2 separate regions of the Homo sapiens genome follow, and region 1 is linked to region 2. The links come from fine-mapping of genetic effects on gene expression. A gene starts in region 2. The other region holds a variant in brackets. All regions are shown on one strand. Distances are between the middles of the regions.

Evidence for each region. PIP is the estimated chance that this variant, and not a neighbour inherited with it, causes the effect.
Region 1: its variant is fine-mapped to the expression of CCNE2 in monocytes after Pam3CSK4 (Quach 2016, PIP 0.95).

The regions. Positions count from the first base shown.
Region 1 is chr8:94,860,199-94,868,198 of GRCh38, reverse strand. INTS8 (integrator complex subunit 8) reads right to left here. Exons shown (of 27, transcript NM_017864.4): 17 at 2,509-2,693; 18 at 2,008-2,041; 19 at 1,003-1,059; 20 at 862-923. Among named protein-coding and RNA genes, the nearest start is that of CCNE2, 31 kb to the left of the region's middle. The variant T/C (reference allele first, on the strand shown) is at 4,751.
Region 2 is chr8:94,889,262-94,900,329 of GRCh38, reverse strand. It overlaps CCNE2 (cyclin E2), which reads left to right and starts at 5,129. Exons shown (of 12, transcript NM_057749.3): 1 at 5,129-5,153; 2 at 6,083-6,122; 3 at 6,211-6,307; 4 at 6,386-6,439; 5 at 7,361-7,512; 6 at 9,780-9,915. The coding sequence starts at 6,109. It also overlaps the pseudogene LOC100128548 and a transcript of NDUFAF6 not described here. RefSeq lists silencers at 3,540-3,759, 4,040-4,089, 4,260-4,309, 4,440-4,539, 4,920-5,139 and an enhancer at 5,756-6,317.

The sequences.
Region 1 (8,000 bases), 31 kb after region 2:
CATGATTTCTTCAAGTAAATGAACCCTTTTTCCTCCCCTAAAAAAAGTCCCCATCATCTTACTGTGATTCTCAGGTAGTGCATGCAAAAGGGAATATTTCTCAAAGTAATTAAAGAAGTTTAGTTTAGTTCCTACAGCAACTAAAAGAGATTGGGAGCCTTTTGATAACTGCAGCATTAGATGAGACATACAAAAAATTATGAAAAAAGAAATCACTTTCAAATAGATACTTGTAAAAGAAATAAGATGCTGGAAACCTGATAGAAAGTCATTCTTTCATTGGCCCCAATTTTCCAATTCTACTGAAAATCAGGACCACTTATATCTTCTGTTCCAAGGCTGATAAATCTTAACTCCTACTTAAGAGTTATGCTGGGCCAGGTGTGGTAGCTCCTGCCTGTAATCCCAGCACTTTGGGAGGCTGAGGTGGGCAGATCACTTGAGGTCAGGAGTTTGAGACCAGCCTGGCCAACATGGCAAAACCATGTGTCTACTAAAAATACAAAAATTAGCCAGGCGTGGTGGTGGGTGCCTGTAATCCCAGCTATTTGGGAGGCTGAGGCATGAGAATTGCTTGAGCCCAAGAGGCAGAGATTGCAGTGAGCAGAGATTGTACCACTGCATTCCAGCCTGGGCAACAGAGTGAGACTCTGCCTCAAAAAAAAAAAAAAAAAAAAGGGTTATGCCTTATCCACAATTTACAGGAAGATAATTATCATTATCATAATAGAGAAACACAAAGACTGTAGAATCTTAGATTTCTGGCCCTTTAATAAAATTATCTAAGGGTATCTATACTAGTCAGAATGGTTTCCAAATACATAACTCAATTAATAAAATAAAAGCTATACCACTACTTACTTGGGAATGGAAGATGGCCAAATAGAAATGTGTTCAGCTGTAATATCATTCACAATGTCCTCCTTTAAAAAGAAAAAAAAAGGTGTGATTTACAAAGAAATTTCTTTTAAATTTTTCTAAATGAAATTATGAAATACTTACCCGAACATTGTGAAGTTTCACAAAGAGTGATAAAATAATAGTCAAAACGAGTGGTTCCTATGAGAAAGAAAACACAGAATCCTTAAACAGTGTATGTATATTTATTTAATATTGCTCCTGTCAACCTCACAGACATCAAGCATTCTAAAAGACCCTTGCCTTTTGAAAATGTAGCATCTGTTTTAGCATGTGCTTTAGCACACTAAAAATCAACTTTTTAATCGCATGTGGGGGCGGGGCGTGGACCATAGCACATAATTTACATAAAATTAGCATAAATGTTTGGCTTATGGTGCTATCTCCACGCTCAACTCCTCACATGACTCTCAAGTAACTTTTTATCCCTTAAAATAATGTTCAAAGAGTGAAACCTAGGTTACGTCCAATAAGTAAATATGACATTGATCCTACTAAGCAAAAATTAAAGCCAGGCTTCACACATCTAGCCCCTATTATGAAGACTTCTTTACAATTTAAAGAAATACCTGCTCCGTTCACTAAAACATGGTAAAGTAAATGCAATACAAACTTTTCCAGTCAGAATATCCCACCCACCAATAATGATCACTGAAGAAAAGCACATTAACAGGTCACTTTAATAATTTAACCAGAGGCCAGGCAAGGTGGCTAACACCTGTAATCCCAGCACTGTGAGGGGCCAAGAAGGGATGATAATTTGAGACCAGGAGTTAGAAACTAGCCTGGGCAACAAGGGGAGACCTCATCTCTACAAAAAATTAGCTGGGCATGGTTACATGTGCCTGTAGTCCCAGTTCCTCAGAAAGCTGAGGCAGGAGGACTGCTTAACCTCAAGAATTAGAAGACGCAGTGAGTTACAATCACACCTCAGCACTCCAGCTTGGGTGACAGATCAAGACCCTGTCCCTTAAAAAAAAATTAAAAAACAAATAATAATTTAGTCAGTATTTGAAGTACCCAATAATTTTTAGTCATATTCTACAAAAACCAGCAATAGTAATTAGAGCAATTTTTAATAAAACTTACTCGTAATTTTTTGATAAAAGAAAGCAGTTCACTCCTACAAAACAAAAATTTTTGAATACACATTTAATATTAGAAATAAAAAATAAAATCAAGAAAGTAAATTATAGGTGAAGGTTTATTCTTAATGCTCCAATTCTGCAAGTGTGAAAAGGAATGTAATATTCTACTGTTATACTAACCTAATAACATTTCTTCCCTGTTTTAATCACATGTGAAGTCTTCAATACTATCCAACCTTAAATACTACTGATTTTGAATTCCAGTTGATTAAATGATTAATAGTTTCTTAAAATGACATATAAACAAAAGATCTTTCCAAAGGTGGCCAAGGCAGACAGGTTCATCACAGGTGAGTACTACAGAACTCGTAAGATTGTCCAACTTTATGATATACAGAATAAAAGCTGATGTTCTTGAAATCAACCTTTAATAGGTTAATAGTATAAATAGGATAAATATTAAGAACTCAAACACAACTAATAGAAACGTACCAATACATACCGATACATGATACCTAACGTAGATTCCCTCTGTTTTATTAAACTAACTCTGCCATCATTTCCTCGTTTGTGCTGACTGGACACACTACAGATTTGAACAACAACTTCCCAAAGGTCTTTGGCAGTCCGTCTACTTTCTTTAGGGCCTGGAAGTTCTTTGCATGTAGCTGCTAAAAGCTGTCCAAGCTATAACATGAAAAACAAAATACACAAAAGATAATCTGTAATGTCGTGCACATTAGTTCTATTATCAAGGCACACTGGAGGAAAGATGGAATGACTGCCCAAACATACTAAGCACAGTTATTTTATGCTGTGCATTCTGTACAACCTTTGAGGAATTTAGGGCTCATTGCGTACTGACAGATCTGAATCTGAGAAAGATCCTCTGGTTCGAGCATACGAACTTTGTTTCTGAACAGTTATAGTCTAATGAAAACGAAAATGAGACAACGCAAAGAGATAGGTGATTTATTAAGTGGAAAAAAAAACGAGTTGCTAAATACACATAGTATGATCCCACGTTACATAGGGAAAAAAAAGTGTAATGGAAGGCATACACCAAGATGTTAACTGTGGTAAAAGCCCAGGGGGTGAGGTTAAAATAGTGCTCAGATCTCTCTCTCTCCCACGTGCAAATACACACACATACAACTTTTAATCACTAAAAAAAAAAATTGTTTCAACGAAAAAAATAAGGAAAGGAATAAGGAAACTGAAGTTGGCAGAATTAAGGGATATAGATTTAAAGCAATTTTTCTCTAAGAAAATTGGTAGCAACTGGGAATGGAGCTACTGCTCTTCTGAGGAGGTAGAATTAAGGCAGGACAGGTTACACAAAGTGACTGGTATGAATAAAGGCAGCCTCAATGACCTAGGATGTAGGGAGGACCCAGAAATAAAGAGTGGGAAAGCTAAAAGCAAAAGACAGGGAAAGATTGACTTACAATAAATTCAGAATTTCTTTTATTTTCTTTTCTTTTTGGAGGCAGGGTCTTGCTCTGCACCCAGGCTGGAATGCAGTGGTATAATCTTGGCTCACTGCAACCTCCGCCTCCCAGGCTCAAACGATTTTTGTGCCTCAGCCTCCTGAGTAGCTGGAATTACAGGCATGTGTCACCATGCCCGGCTAATTTCTGTATTTTTAGTAGAGACGGGGTTTCACCATGTTGGCCAGGCTGGTCTCGAACTCCTGGCCTCAAGTGATCTATCCGCCTCGGCCTCCCAAAGTGCTGAGATTACAGGCTTGAGCCACAGCATCTGGCCAAATTCAGAACTGGGCCCCTTTACCCTTGTTCATATTAACTTTTATACTCCATCGCTCTTGTAGAGGGTGCAGTAGCAAGGATAATTTCAAATCCATCAGGAACCCCTGGTTTCTACTTAAAATGGACCTAGGGGTCCCTACTGCTTAAGGCGGCTTTTTTAAGGAGGTGGCAAGATTGTGACAAGGACAAAAATTGGTGGTTTTTCTCTACATTTTTTTGTTATGAAAAATTTCAAACAGAAAAATAAAAAAAAAAGTTCAATAAATACCTGACACATTGTGACTATTCTGCCATGTTTGCTTTATATATCTACATAAATTTTTTTGTTAAACCATATTAAACTAAGTTAGACACAATATTTCATCCCTAAATACTTCCACATACATCTTCTAAGGACGAGGACATTCTTCTCCATAACCACAACTCTGTGATCATGCCTAAGAAAATTAACAAGAGTACTGTGGCTTTCCGAAGCTCGTGAGAATAACATAAAAACCCTGCCTATACTAGGTGAATAGACATGGACCAATGGCCTAGCAGGATATTTCATCCTGCAAGCTTACCTAAAATACTCTTCTCTGACAAATGGAATCACAATACATGCAGCTATTCACTGCAGTGTAATGCCAGGGCTACTGTAGCTCTTAGCTCAAATTCATCTTCTGTTGTCAGGGATCATATGCTTTAAGGTCACTGAATTTATTACATAAATTTAATTTAAAAAATTTTCAAAGTCTAAGGCCTCAAATCAATTGAATTCCACAAACATTCTTGAGCACCTACTATGTGTGGTGGGCATCATGGAAAGCACAACATAAAAATTAACTGCCCTGAAGCAGTTCATTGTCTTATAGAGAAGACAAGTGGATATATAACTTACTATTCAGCATAAACACAACAAAAGAAATAAGTCAACAGTACAACAGTAGCAGGATCAGTACAACAGTACAAAGGAAGCAGGAAGAGGAAGTGATT[T/C]ACTCATTTACAGAGAAAAGAATATGGGAAAGCATCAGAGAAATCACACAAACACGCAAAGCTGGAAAGGACATCCTGGCTAATGTGACAAACAGCGTGTGCACAGGTGCAGAATGGAAACATGGCGTGGGCATGCTGGTGCTGCCAGCACAGGGCTGGAACGCCAAGGGGCAGGGGAACTGCACCTGGAGGAGGAGAAGCATGCACACCTTAAGAAGCCTGGTAGGCCACATGAACAACCTAAGGTTTTAGCCTATACTAGCACCACTGTGGCTGCCAACCCCCCACTACTACCTAGGTTCTTATCATCCAAGTGCCTATAACCTGTGCCCTTTCCATTATGTGACACTGCCACCCACTCTGATCCAAGGGGCAGACTAGACAGTTTTATATTATTTCAAAAGGGTATATTTTAGTGACATGCTTAAGAATTTTCTGTTCCTATTTGTGATTACGTAATATATGAGTAGGAAAATATGTTCCTATGTAACAGAATAGAAAACATTAAAATCACCAAATTTCCCATTATCTAGAGATAATGGCTGTTAATATCCTTTCAGACTTTTTCCTACACGTGTGTGCGTGTGTGTGTGTGGTGCATTCCACACCAGCTTGGAAGTGTGGAAACTGATTCAGATTGTATTTTTTTCAAAACACAATCCCTCATTCTAAACTTCTTTCTCTAATTCCTTTTTCCTTGACATTAACAAGGCAGTGAGAGGCCAATTATGTATGGAAGGTGGCACACAAAACCCTAACCACCAGATGACATATGAAGAGACATCTAAGTGACAATTCTTTCGCAAAGTCACCACACATCCTTCCTCCTTTTGGACCAGATCAGGGGAACTGCAGGAAGCAGTGAGACAGCCTCTCCCAGAGTTAGGCAACCAACAAAACAATTTCCTGTGTCCTTACACATTGCAGACCCTCAAGCATTCATTACACAAACACATGCCTATCTCTCCTGGTGCACAGCTCCACAGAATTCACTGCCAGAGGTAAAGAGAAGAGTTACTATGCTGTCTTTGCACTCAGTGACAAGCTATGATTGTAAGTGTAAATGACAGTAACCTTGGAACACAACGGTTCCCTCATCTGATTTTCTTAAAGGCTAAGAAATTACTGGTGTCCATAATGAGACAAGTGCCCAATATATTAAGAACTCACATGCCAGAAAGTTCACTAAAGAGATAGAAATGATTCAGGTCGGGCACGGTGGCTTATGCCTGTAATCCCAGCACTTTGGGAGGCCCAGGCGGGGGGATCACCTGAGGTCAGGAGTTCTAGACCTGCCATGGCAAAACCCCGTCTCTATTAAAAATACAAAACAAAAAAAAACTACCCGGGTGTGGTGGTGCATGCCTGTAATGCCAGCTACTTGGGAGGCTGAGGCACAAGAATGGGTTGAAACTGGGAGGTAGAGGTTGCAATGAGCCGAGATTGTGCCAGTGCACTCCAGCCTGGGCGACAGAGGGGGACTCAGTCTCCAAAAAAAAGAAGAGATAGATATGATTCAATGTCTGAAATTTCAAAGAAAAGGGTAATTCAAGTATGGCAGTTTTCACGAGCAAGTGTAAAGATAACAAAAAGGGCCGGGCCGGGCGCGGTGGCTCACGCCTGTAATCCCAGCACTTTGGGAGGCCGAGGTGGGCGGATCACCTGAGGTCGGGAGTTCAGACCCGCCTGACTAACATGGAGAAACCCCATCTCTACTAAAAATACAAAATTAGCCAGGCGTGGTGGTGCGTGCCTGTAATCCCAGCTACTCGGGGGGCTGAGGCAGGAGAATTGCTTGAATCTGGGAGGCAGAGGTTGCGGTGAGCCGAGATCGTGCCATTGCACGCCAGCCTGGGCAACAAGAGCAAAACTCCGTCTCAAAAAAAAGGGCCGGGCTCGATGGCTCACGCCTGTAATCCCAGCACTTTGGGAGGCCAAGGCGGGCAGATCACGAGGTCAGGAGATTGAGACCATCCTGGCTAACACGGTGAAACCCCGTCACCACTAAAAATACAAAAAATTAGCCGGGCATGGCAGTGGGCGCCTGTAGTCCCAGCTACTCGGGAGGCTGAGGCAGGAGAATGGCGTGAACCCGGGAGGCGGAGCTGGCAGTGAGCCGAGATCGCGCCACTGCACTCCAGCCTGGGCGACAGAGCGAGACTCCGTCTCAAAAAAAAAAAAAAAAAAAAAAATTACAAAAAGGGGGGAAAAACTGAAGAAATCAATAAACTCAATAAATCCTGAAAGGGTTAAAATGAAATGAGCTCAGTTTTTAAAAGGACATACGTGAAGGAAGAAACAAGTAACCAAACACAAATGTTACAAAGTGGCACAGTTTTACAAAAGTTCCCAGAAAAACACAGATTTAAAGGATTTTTTTTTTTTTTTTTTTGAGACAGAGTCTCACTCTGTCGCCCAGGCTGGAGTGCAGTGGCGCCATCTCGGCTCACTGCAAGCTCCGCCTCCCGGGTTCATGCCATTCTCCTGCCTCAGCCTCCCGAGTAGCTGGGACTACAGGAGCCCGCCACTACGCCCGGCTAATTTTTTTTGTATTTTTAGTAAGGACGGGGTTTCACCTTGTTAGCCAGGATGGTCTCCATCTCCTGACCTCGTGATCTGCCCGTCTCGGCCTCCCAAAGTGCTGGGATTGCAGGCGTGAGCCACTGCACCCAGCCGATTTAAAGGACTTTGTATTACCAAAGACAAGTTGGGACAAACAAAGAATAACAAAAGGTAATAGGAACAATTAAAAATAATGGGAAAATCTGAAGCACCAAATATACCCAAAAAGGAGACAGGGACGTATAATGTTAAATCACTACATGTTTTACTTTGTTTTTTGGGTTTTTTTTTTTTTTTTTTTTTTTTTGAGGTAGAGTTTCGCTCTTGTTGCCCAGGCTGGAGTGCAATGGCACCATCTCAGCTCACGCAAACTCTGCCTCCCGGGTTCAAGCGATTCTCCTGCCTCAGCCTCCTGAGTAGCTAGGACTACAGGCACCTGCCACCACACCTGGCTAATTTTTGTATTTTCAGTAGAGACAGGGTTTCACCATATTGGCCAGGCTGGTCTTGAACTCCTGACCTTGTGATCCGCACGTCTTGGCCTCCCAAAGTGCTGGGATTACAGGCGTGAGCCACCACGCCCAGCCTACTTTGTTTTTTTTTTAACTGTAAAACCAGAAAGTGAGAAAAACCCACTACTTACTCAGAGTGTGTATAATATTAACACATGAAAGATATAATCTTAGAA
Region 2 (11,068 bases):
CAGCTGCAAAACTCTTTCAAGGGACTGTTCCCTGGAGTTAGGTTCCAAGGGCCCCCCACCGAGAGCACACCTCTGCCCCCTCCCCTCCATTTATCCCACAAAGAGGGTTGCGGTCCACCAGGCCCCAGGCCAGCCCTGAAAGAGACAGCCCCTGTCCCCAGGGGCTCCCTACAGCCTGGCAGAGACAAGCAGGGGTAGAGGCAAGCATAAGTTGGAGAAGAGGTGCTACAAAGGAAAGTCCTACTTCAGAACAGGGCAAGACAGCTTTCTAGAAAAGGCAGTGTTTGAGTATTAATGAATAAATGGGATCTAGCTGGGGAAAGGCAATGGAGGTGGGGAGAATGAGGTGCAGGTGCCAAGGTCCCAAGGTGAGAAGGACAGGGGATGTGGACAGCTCCATGTAGGGGGATCTCCTGGGCGCAAGAGGTCTTGTGTGTTTAAGTTTTGGGGTTTGACTGTTAATCCAAGCGGAGGTACAGAAAGGTTTTAAGGAGTGGCATCTGTGCTTTGGAAGGGCAGTTTGGCAACAGGTTGGAAGGCAGACTGCAAGAGGCAATGCATGTCAGGAAAACCAGTTAGAAGAGTATTGCACTGAAGAGAGAATGGTGTCCTGAACTAAGGCAGAGGGAAATAAAGCATGAATGTGGAAATGACTTGGGAACAGAAGAGAAAGGAATTTGGTGATAAATGGAGGCAGCACAGCACAGGTGAGCTGGAGTCAGACTCTACTGTGGATCTTAGGCAAACTACACTTGTGCCTCAGCTTCCTCATTTATAAACCAGGAATGACAGTCATTAGCACCTGTCTTATAGTGTTGGTGGAAGATTGAAGGAGTTAATAGTATGTGAAGGCTTGGGGTACAGCCTAGCACATTATCTTACCCAGGAAATATTAACTATGATTATGAAGCTCAGAAAAGAAGAAAAAAGGAATGACTAAGTTCACTCCCAGGATTCTGGTTTGGGCAACTATGTATGCAGTTCTCAAAGTGTGTTCTGTGGACATCTAGAGGTCTCAATGACGCTTCAAAGTAGAATGTGAAGTCAAAACTATCTTACAGTAAAATGTATTTGTTTAACAATAAAATTGTTTTTAAAACTGCATCTCACCTGATTCTAATTTAAAAAATTGGCCAGGTGCAGTGGCTCATGCCTGTAATCCCAGCACTTTGGGAGGCCGAGGCGGGCGGTTGATTTAAGGTCAGGAGTTCAAGACCAGCCTGACCAACATGGTGAAACCTTGTCTCTACTAAAATACAAAGATTTTTTTTCCTTTATGTATGTTTTAGATAAGCATGAAGGATAAGCAAGTTTCATTAAATGGGAAGAAAATGTTTTATTCCTTTCTTGTTACATGAGAAATACTATTATTAAGCACCATTCATTTTTGCTTAGCTTCAAATGAGTCTCATGACAATAAAAACGTATGAAAAATACCTTGGTGAAAGTTTTGAACAATCTGACCAACAAGATAAAGTATTATTGAATTATAATTCAAATTATAAAACGAATATCCATGAGTGCATACTGATAGGAATAAATGACTAAGTTAATGAATGGGGAAAAAGAGACAAATCTCTAATGCAGAATAAATTAAAATAATACAGATACTTCACCCTAAAAAAGATCACTCCTCACTCCTTAGGTGTGGGCTGCACACAGTGACTTCCTTCCAAAGAGCACAGTATGGAAAGGGAGGAAAAAGAGTAATTTTACAATGGAGAAACCTGACAAACATTACCTCAGCCAAGCGGTCAAGATCAACATCAACAGTAATAAATCATGATGTCGGTATGAACTCTTAGTATGATGTGATGAAAATGGTACTTTATCTCTATGATCTTCCTCCCCAAACCCATAACCCCAGTCAACTCGTCTACCGGAATTCATCTGATGTTTTTGTCGCATGGTTAGCCTACAAAATACTTGACCAGCACTCCTCAAAACTGTTAAGGTCATCAAAACAAAAGTCTGAGAAACTGCCATGGCCAAGAGGAACCTAAGACATGACATCTAAATGTGATGGGTATCCTGGACGAGATCCTAGAGCAATAAAAAGATATTAGGTAAAAACTAAAGACATAGGAATAAAGTATGGACTTTAGTTAATAATAACACATCGACATTGATTCATTAAATAGCAAACACATCATAGGGTAATAAATATGCCATACTATAAGATGTCAATAACAGGGGAAACTGTGCATGTGTGGTGGGTGGGAGAGGGGAGTGAGTATATGGAAGTCCTGTTCCACCTGCTCAATTTTTCTTTAAAACTGTTCTAAAAAATAAAGTCTATTAATGTTTTTAAAAGCCTGGTATTTATTGGGAATAATTCCACCATCCGTCTATCATCCATCATGGTAACCTAGAGACCTAAAATTCTATAATGGGATATCCTACATACAATTCAAATCAGCATTTACCCAAGTCCTACTATATATGCCTTTGAACTGCTGAATACTGGCTATAAAAAGATGAACAAAACAATTTCCGAGGTCGAGTTGGAAATAAAAGACATTTAAATAAGTAATTTTTGTCCTGTAAGATGAGCATAACTGTAGCACAGGGAAAAGGATCTGTGAAGCTTCGACAGAGGAGATATACAAAAAAAAAAAAAAAAGGCACAGAATAAAGAAATGGGTGGGCTAAGCCTGAATTTTTTTTTTTAAGCCTGTGCCTCCAAGCATCTTCTGGGGTTTTTTCCTCCTGAAAATGAATGTCGGAGCAATCAAAATAGTTACCCCAGAGAAGCATGGTAGAGGCCAACAGTTTATTTACCATGGTGTTTTAACTTTACATGTACAATAGGGGAAATATACTTTAGGTGAATTTTAAAACGGATAAGTAGGAAAAGAGCAAGCTAAAAACAAACATACCCGCCCCCTACCCTTTATTTTCTCTTTTTTTAACAGACCCACTTGTCTATTGACCAGGTATCTGTAATATGGGAGAATTCACTCTATTCCTTTCCACACAAAGACGTCTTGGAATTTTCTAATTTCTCCTTTACTATGATTGCATTCTGTTCACATAATAGTCAAGGGTATGGAAAGAACATTTATAAGAGCAGTGTCTTTTAAAATCAATTTACTAGTTAACTCAGTACTGAGCATACATTCATCATTCAAAGATGATTCCCACAAACGTTACTCGACATACTGGTTTTCAGTATATTTTATCAAATTCAACCACGAGGGCCACCAGTTCTGCTTACGATCAGGTGACCCTTGTTGGGAGACCCCTGACCCCTTTTCTTGACATCATGCTGTTAGACCTTTAAGCTAGCTATACCGCTAACTGCGTTTTGAGTGACTGCAAAAGGGAGGCAACTTCTGCCCCGCCGAGAGCCATCCTAAGCGTTAGAAATGGCAGAAAGTTTCTTGGGACTGACAAGGCATGGGCTTCTCCTGATGCTGTCACCTTGGGCAAAGCTCCTACAGGTAAATTAGGGAGAGAATTATTTTGCCGGCGTCACGAGACGAAGAATCGAAAAAGTGTGAAAAAGGACTTCGCCCGCCCCAAAGCGCCCATCCGGCGGCGGCTATTTCCCGGGCCTCAAGCGCGCTCGAGCGGCGCAGCACAAAAGGCCGGGCGGGAGCGGGGGTCGCCGGGCGCCGCCTCCCGGTGCATCTCGGGAAGGGCTCCCGCCCGCGAGGCTCCGTCTCCCCGGCGCGGCCCGCTCGCCGTCCGGCTCGCTCAGGGCCTGGGCAGACGCGGCCCGCCCGAGCTACCGCGGGTTCCGAGACGCCTTCGCACTGCTCCTCCACCCGGGGGATCTTTGTTCCCGGAGCTGTTCCCCGCCTCGCTGCTCCCGCCGCAAAACCTGTTTGCGGAATACCCGCCGCAAGTCTGACTTGACGATGTGCAGTTTTGGGGTGCGCCAGTTGTGGGGGCATTCATAGAGGCAGCGAAGGGACCCCTAAGTTTAAACACCCGGGGAAGGATAAAGGAAGAGCGTCGGGCCCCCCTCCTCCCAACAGCGCTCGGGCGCGAACGGCGCCCTCCCGCGCTGCCGGCTCGCGCGGGCTCCGCAGGGCGCGCTGGCGGCGGCGGCGGGGCGGGGCGCGGCAGGCGGGCCCGGGGCCTGCACGTGGTGGCGATCTTTCTTCCCACCCGGCCAGGTCCCCGGGGACCACCGCGCTCAGGGGGAGGAGGAATGCCGTTCCCGGGCCCCGCTCCGGAGAGGGGTTTTACCCTCTGGGATCCCGGAATTGGAGGTGGAGAAGAGAGGAAGCAAGGGAGGGCGCGGCGTGGCGCGAGCGTTTCCTGCGCGGGGACTGCGGGGTGGCAGCTGGAGGCCACTGCAGGGGCAGAGCGGCGGGTTGGGGGAGCGACCGACCCATGGGGAGGGAAACCCGGTAGGGGGAGCAGGGAGCCGGAAAGCAGGGTTGATACATACCTGGGTGGGCGGGCTGGAAATGCCTTCCCTGGGCGCGCCGCGCAAGGCCGGCGGAGCGGGCTCCGGGTGGTCGCGGACCGGGACTGGGGAGAGCAGAGCCGCACTTGGCCAGGCGCGTGGCTGAGTGGTGTTTACATTCTGCAGCCACTCCACGTTGTGCTGCCGCCCGTGCCTCCCATTGGCCAGCTCTTCAGCCAACGCTTTGCTCCTCCCCGAGGGGCGGGCCCTCGGGTCCCCGCGTCGCTCAGGAAAGACCTGGGTTCCCTGAGGCCTTGGCGGGACAGCTAGGGCGCGCCCCTGGACGGTCACTTCCCAGCCACCCTATGGTCGCCCGAGTCGTGTCCCCCTGTTATGCGCCCGGGCTGAGCCGCAGGCTGACACCCCCGAAATCCAGGAGTTGCAGTGGGAGGAAGCAAAAGCAAACTGGCGGGAGATGCGCGAGCCAGGCGGCGGGGAGAACAGCCGCGGAGAAGGAGCCCCTGAGAGTTTCCCTACCGCCGCCGGCCGCGCCGTGGAGCGCGGTGGACGCGGGCAGAAGGCCCGGTAGAGTGGACCCCACGGCCGCTCCGGGTGGCGGGCGCGCACTGAGAGCAGGGCGCGGCGCGCGGGCACGCGGGCGGACGGGCGGGAGAGGGGAGCGCGCTGTCCGGAGGTGTCAGTCTGAGGCGCATGCGTGCGGGGCGGGACCGGCCCGGCCTATATATTGGGTTGGCGCCGGCGCCAGCTGAGCCGAGCGGTAGCTGGTCTGGCGGTGAGGAGTTGCTGCGCGTAGGGGGGATGTGGGAGGAAAGAAAGCCCAGTTGGGCCGATCACTTACCACAGGCGGGAGCCTCAGGGAGGAAAATCGGGAGGGCTGAGAACTAGACGACTGGGGGTCATGGGTTCCCGCGTTCCGTCCCTGTCAGGAACCTTGGCAGGGGACCGGGAAGCGGCTGGGCATGGAGAGCCGCCCCTCATTCTAGGGGCTTCTCTATCCCACCCTCATTTGGGGAGCTATCCCGTGGGAGAGAGGATGGGAGGCCGGGTCCCCTCCATGGGGAGAAAAGTTCCCAGCCAGCCCAGTCTCCCCTTTCTTTAGCTCCTTTTCCTGCCCTCCCCCACGCCCTCCGCTTCCCATCTGGAGTTGGGGTCCCGGCGCCCCTCCGAGCGGCGGTAGGGCGGCAGGGCCGGGAAGGAGGGAAAGGAGACTGGAGGCCGTGACACCAGTCTTGGTTCCTCCGCCCCCTGCTTCCCCGCCACCGCCGCTCTCCAAATTGGCGCGGAACCGGCTTCTCCACAGCATTTCGCCTCCACAACCCCCTCTCCCCGCTGGTCCAGGAGGGAGGCGGGACGTGGGGGCGCTGCCCAAGCCCCACTCCCGGTGTACGGGGGAGAGGGTGGAGGACCCAGAAAAACCCGTTTGAGGAAGATGTGCCTCCCTGCGCGTTCAAGGTGTCAGGAGTGCTTGGTAAATTTTTGGACACTCGCGTTCCAGCTGTACATTCAGTTGAGGAAATGCAGGCTTGTATCCAAAATGAATTACCATGAGCTAGCTAACATAGCACAGAAGATGGCAGGGTCACAGGGCCCAGGCCCCCTTCGGAGGGACTGAGCTTTCACCTGCGAATCAGCGTCTTACTGGCACTTGGAGAATGTGAATGACAATGTACTTGACTGCGGCTTTTCCTCTCCCCCCTTCAGAGGTTTTATACACCTGAAAGAAGAGAATGTCAAGACGAAGGTAACATTATCTGTCTTAGAGACATGTTTCAAATTAGTTGCTGCCTTTAACTTACTAATTACACTTCCTTTTTAAAAATTCACTACAGTAGCCGTTTACAAGCTAAGCAGCAGCCCCAGCCCAGCCAGACGGAATCCCCCCAAGAAGCCCAGATAATCCAGGCCAAGAAGAGGAAAACTACCCAGGTGATTTAAGGAGAAAGAGGGAGGAACGAAATTCCATGCTGGGACTTTAGTTTACCAATGGTCTTTTCTATTTTCCAGGATGTCAAAAAAAGAAGAGAGGAGGTCACCAAGAAACATCAGTATGAAATTAGGGTAATGCAGAACTGGGCTGGGTGGGTTTGGGGGAAAAATGGAGGATAGATGAATAAGAATAGAATTATGTGTTTATTGCTTTGCGATAGATTCCTCTGACACTTTTACTTTTAATGCCCCTAGAGGTCAGCAGGAAGGCGCCTATCTTTGGGTGGTTTCTATGTGCCCGAATCCTACTACAGCTGCAGAATAAGTGCCTTCAAGCAGCTGGTTCCTTTTTGTAAATCCCTCCCTCTTGGAACTGCCTGGTGCACCAGGGCCCGCCTAATCTGTCCAATATACTGCTCTTTGTTCCCTCGCAGACTCTAGTAGACGGTCCTAATAGCTGCTTCTTGGGCATAAATAGGATGTGAGATCACTGACAGCCTGGCACGCAGCCCTTTGGTACCTCTTCTTCCTATGTGTTTTACAGAAAGCAGCACTTTGGAGATAGTGATTGCGTTTGAAACCAGCATTATTGGGAAAAGAATCGTTTAAGTAATCGATTCCATTTTTAAGGTTTTGCTTTCAAATATTCAAAAGTATCAGAGCACACTTTTTTTAAAAAGAGCTTATTTGAAAAAAAAAAAAAAAGGTCCCTGCTACTATTGCTAGATACAGAGAACGATTCTGTGATCTTGAAAGTGATTAGTATTTTAGACTGCAGATGCATTTTGTTATTACTGTCCTTCTTCGACACCTGGTGTCTTCTATTACCAGAATTGCATTTTGTTGTCTAAAACATCCTATTACTCTTTATAAAAATCAATATGAGCTATATGGCTTGTTTATAAAATGTGAATGTCAAATTAGCTATATTGCCATCTATGTTAGCTAAAATTATGATTCTTTAGACATATTAGCTTTCATTTATGAAAGATCCATTACAAAAACTAAGGTTTTCCTTGCACAAATTGATATTTTTCTTTTTTTTTATGACAGAATTGTTGGCCACCTGTATTATCTGGGGGGATCAGTCCTTGCATTATCATTGAAACACCTCACAAAGAAATAGGAACAAGTGATTTCTCCAGATTTACAAATTACAGATTTAAAAATCTTTTTATTAATCCTTCACCTTTGCCTGATTTAAGGTAAGAAAAATTTCAGTAATTTTATTTCAAAGATATAAAGTTGTGCTGATTTAATACATGGCACTATTTTGTCTTTTGCTTTCATAAAGTAGAAAAACGTGTAAAAATTGTTTACTAATATTTAATCATATGTCATTTTATCTGAGAGTAGTGCTGGTTGCAAATGATATGGGTATTTAAAACACTGATTCTATAAAATTATTTTCATTTGCTTGCTGAGTACTATAAAGACTTAACAGGACTGAATTAGTTTTTTGTTAAGATAGAAACATTTTTACATGTACAGCTTTTTCCTTTAAAATTTTTATTCGTGTTTCTTGCAGCTTCAACTCAAAGGAAGCTTTTCCAATTGATGTATCAACCCTATTTATTTCTTACCAAACTTAATAAGGTCTATACTTAATTCTTTTTTCTAGTCCATGAGTGTAACTAAGAGGTACAGCTTATACAAAACATGTACTGTATTAATTTATGATTGGCCTTAATAAGCAATTTAATGGAATCAGACACTTAAACTCACCAATCCCCCTTTCCCTGCATTCTGTCCCACCTTACCCACCCCATAGGTGATCCTGCTGTAGATGATCTATTTAGAGGTGATTGAGACTTCTCTTGACTGTGATCACATGCCTTATGTGTTTAACTTTTTTGTATTGCTCTTGAGAAAACATTTTTTTTCACTTTTAATTGCATTTATTTTAGTGCTGAATTTACTCCTGTGCCATAAGTTTTTGTTTCTTCAGTTTCTTCTGGGATATCTTTTTCTTCTGGGCAACCGCCTCTTCTGGTTTAGGAACAATTTGTTCCTTTTCACTAAAGATCATTTCGATGTGGCAGGGAGAGATCACGTGTGAGTTAATCCGACCATGAGCTCTGTAGGTCCGTTGGCACATCGTAGGTGCTTTGTTCACTTGGAGATGCTCAATGACCAGAGAATCTACATCTAAACTCTTAAGTTCAGCATTACTCTCTGCATTTTTAAGCATGTGCAGCAAAAATTCAGCACTCTTTTTGGGCCACCAACCTTGTGTCCAGTCCCACTGCTTGGCCTGGGTACACCTACCAACTCCACCATTGTAATGTCAGAATGGCACATGCTGTTTCTGTAAAGTGACATTTTAAAAATACTTCATGGTGTTTTTTTTTTTTTTTTTTTTTGGAGACAGAGGTTTGCTGTTGTTGCCCAGGCTGGAGTGCAGTGGCACGATCTCGGCTCACTGCAACCTCCACCTCCTGGGTGCAAGTGATTCTCCTGCCTCAGCCTCCTGAGTAGCTGGGATTACAAGCATGCCACCACGCCCAGCTAATTTTTTGTATTTTTAGTGGAGACGGGGTTTCACCATGTTGGCCAGGCTGGTCTCGAACTCCTGACCTTAAGTGATCCACCCACCTTGGCCTCCCAAAGTGCAGGGATTACAGGTGTGAGCCACTGTGCCGGCCACTTTGTGGTTTTTCATATATGCATACCCTTGATAGCCTGGGCAGTTTCACGAGTGTTCTTACAGTGAACACAAAGATTTGAACCTCTTGATTTGCATGATTTTGTGGGGTTTTCCAGGTAAAGTGAATAGCCAGCTATTTTCACAGATTACTTCAGACCACTTATGGGAAAAGCAACGTGGTTATCTTTTAACAGCAACCTTTGTAAAGTATAAATAAGTGGAACTAGAAAGCACTCCCTTGAAATCTGCAGGTTTGGATGATCATAGTCCAGGTTCCCACTGTGTTACTTCAGGCTTCTATTTATTCATGCAAAGGAAATTGTTTCCAAAAATTAAGGCAGAAGTTTTTTTTCTTATTTACTTTAAGAGCTTCTTCCAAGTTCTAATTAAAAGTTGCATTTCAATGTCTGAAAGTTGAATTTTATCTATGTGAAACAGAGTTTGTATATTACATGGATTGCACAATTTAAATTATGTTTTTTAGCCGGGCATGGTGGGTCACGCCTGTAATCCCAGCACTTTGAGAGGCTGAGGCAGGTCGATCACTTGAGGCCAGGAGTTCGAGACTAGCCCAGCCAACATGGTGAAACCCCATCTCTACTAAAAATACAAAAACTAGCCAGGCTTGGTGGCAGGCACCTGTAACTCCCAGCTACTTGGGAGGCTGAGGCACAAGAATCGCTTGAACCCAGGAGGTGGAGATTACAGTGAGCCAAGATTGTGCCGCTGCACTCTAGCCTGGGCCACAGAGCGAGACTCTGTCTCAAAAAAAAAAAAAAAAAAATATATATATATATATATGGTTTTTTTCCTCTCTTTCCATAGCTGGGGATGTTCAAAAGAAGTCTGGCTAAACATGTTAAAAAAGGAGAGCAGATATGTTCATGACAAACATTTTGAAGTTCTGCATTCTGACTTGGAACCACAGATGAGGTCCATACTTCTAGACTGGCTTTTAGAGGTATGTTACAGCAATACAAATTTCCTTTGTCTCTGTATGATGGAAACATATTTAGCTGTAAATGTGCTTTCTATGTACTCTCAAGAGTTTATTGTTCATCCCCAGGAAGCTGTCTTTTTTGAGGTACTTACTGTAGTTGATTGCACCCAAAGTGGAAAGTGACTCTATAAGAGTAAAACCATGACAAAGCTACTACATATAACTAAACCCAATTCAGAATTCCTGTTACCTGTGGATACTGCTGTGTACCAACCACTTTCTGGGTGCCACAGATACTCAAGGTGAATGGAATGTATAGTTGATTAGGTTTTGAATTATGCTATACAAAGTGAAGAACTAGAACTAGGCTTCAGGGCCCTCTGAAGTCTTTTTCTGTATTAACAAAATCATGATGATGAGGAATCCTGATTTCTATATCCTAAACCATAATGAGACTATGGATATCTGGAAGCTCTACGCCCTCTATTGTCCAGATACCTTCTCTTTATTATATTCTTCTATTCTTTTCCGAAATATACCATTAATTTAAAGGAATAGTGATCCTGAAGCCCCTATAGATTTGTGCCAGATTTTTCTCTCTTGTTTAGGTCCATTCCCTTTCCTCTGGATAATAGCTCTAAAAAAGTTTCTAAAATTATTATTAAGGAAATCATTACTTATGTTGATGACAAACTGATTTTTCCTCCAACTCTTGGATATTTGCTCTGTAGTCTGTCTTTAAGACAAGAGATGAAGCATTCTAAGGGAAAAAGACCATAGACTTTTTGGAGGAGGAACACATGGCAGAATAGATCTCAGAAGCTATCAGAACAGTTTTTAAGACTAAAATGTTATCCTTTTGCATCAGGTCATCTTTTTCCTTATTCTGACTAGAAGGAAAGATTGTATTTTAATTGTGGGCACAAGAAGGCATTGGGTTTTGACTTTTTCTGACTGTCTAGTGATCATGGAATCAACTTAAGCACAATTATGTTAATTTTTAATTTGTTTCCTTTTTGTTATACTGATATTCATCCAGTGGTTATCCAATTCAATTTGTTCCTGTTTTTACCTAAATATGATTATGTATGCAACAGCATACAGAATATATCAAATCCAGCAGTGTTAAACTCTATCTTAGTGTATTCTTCAGTCTAGGAATGCAAACTTGATT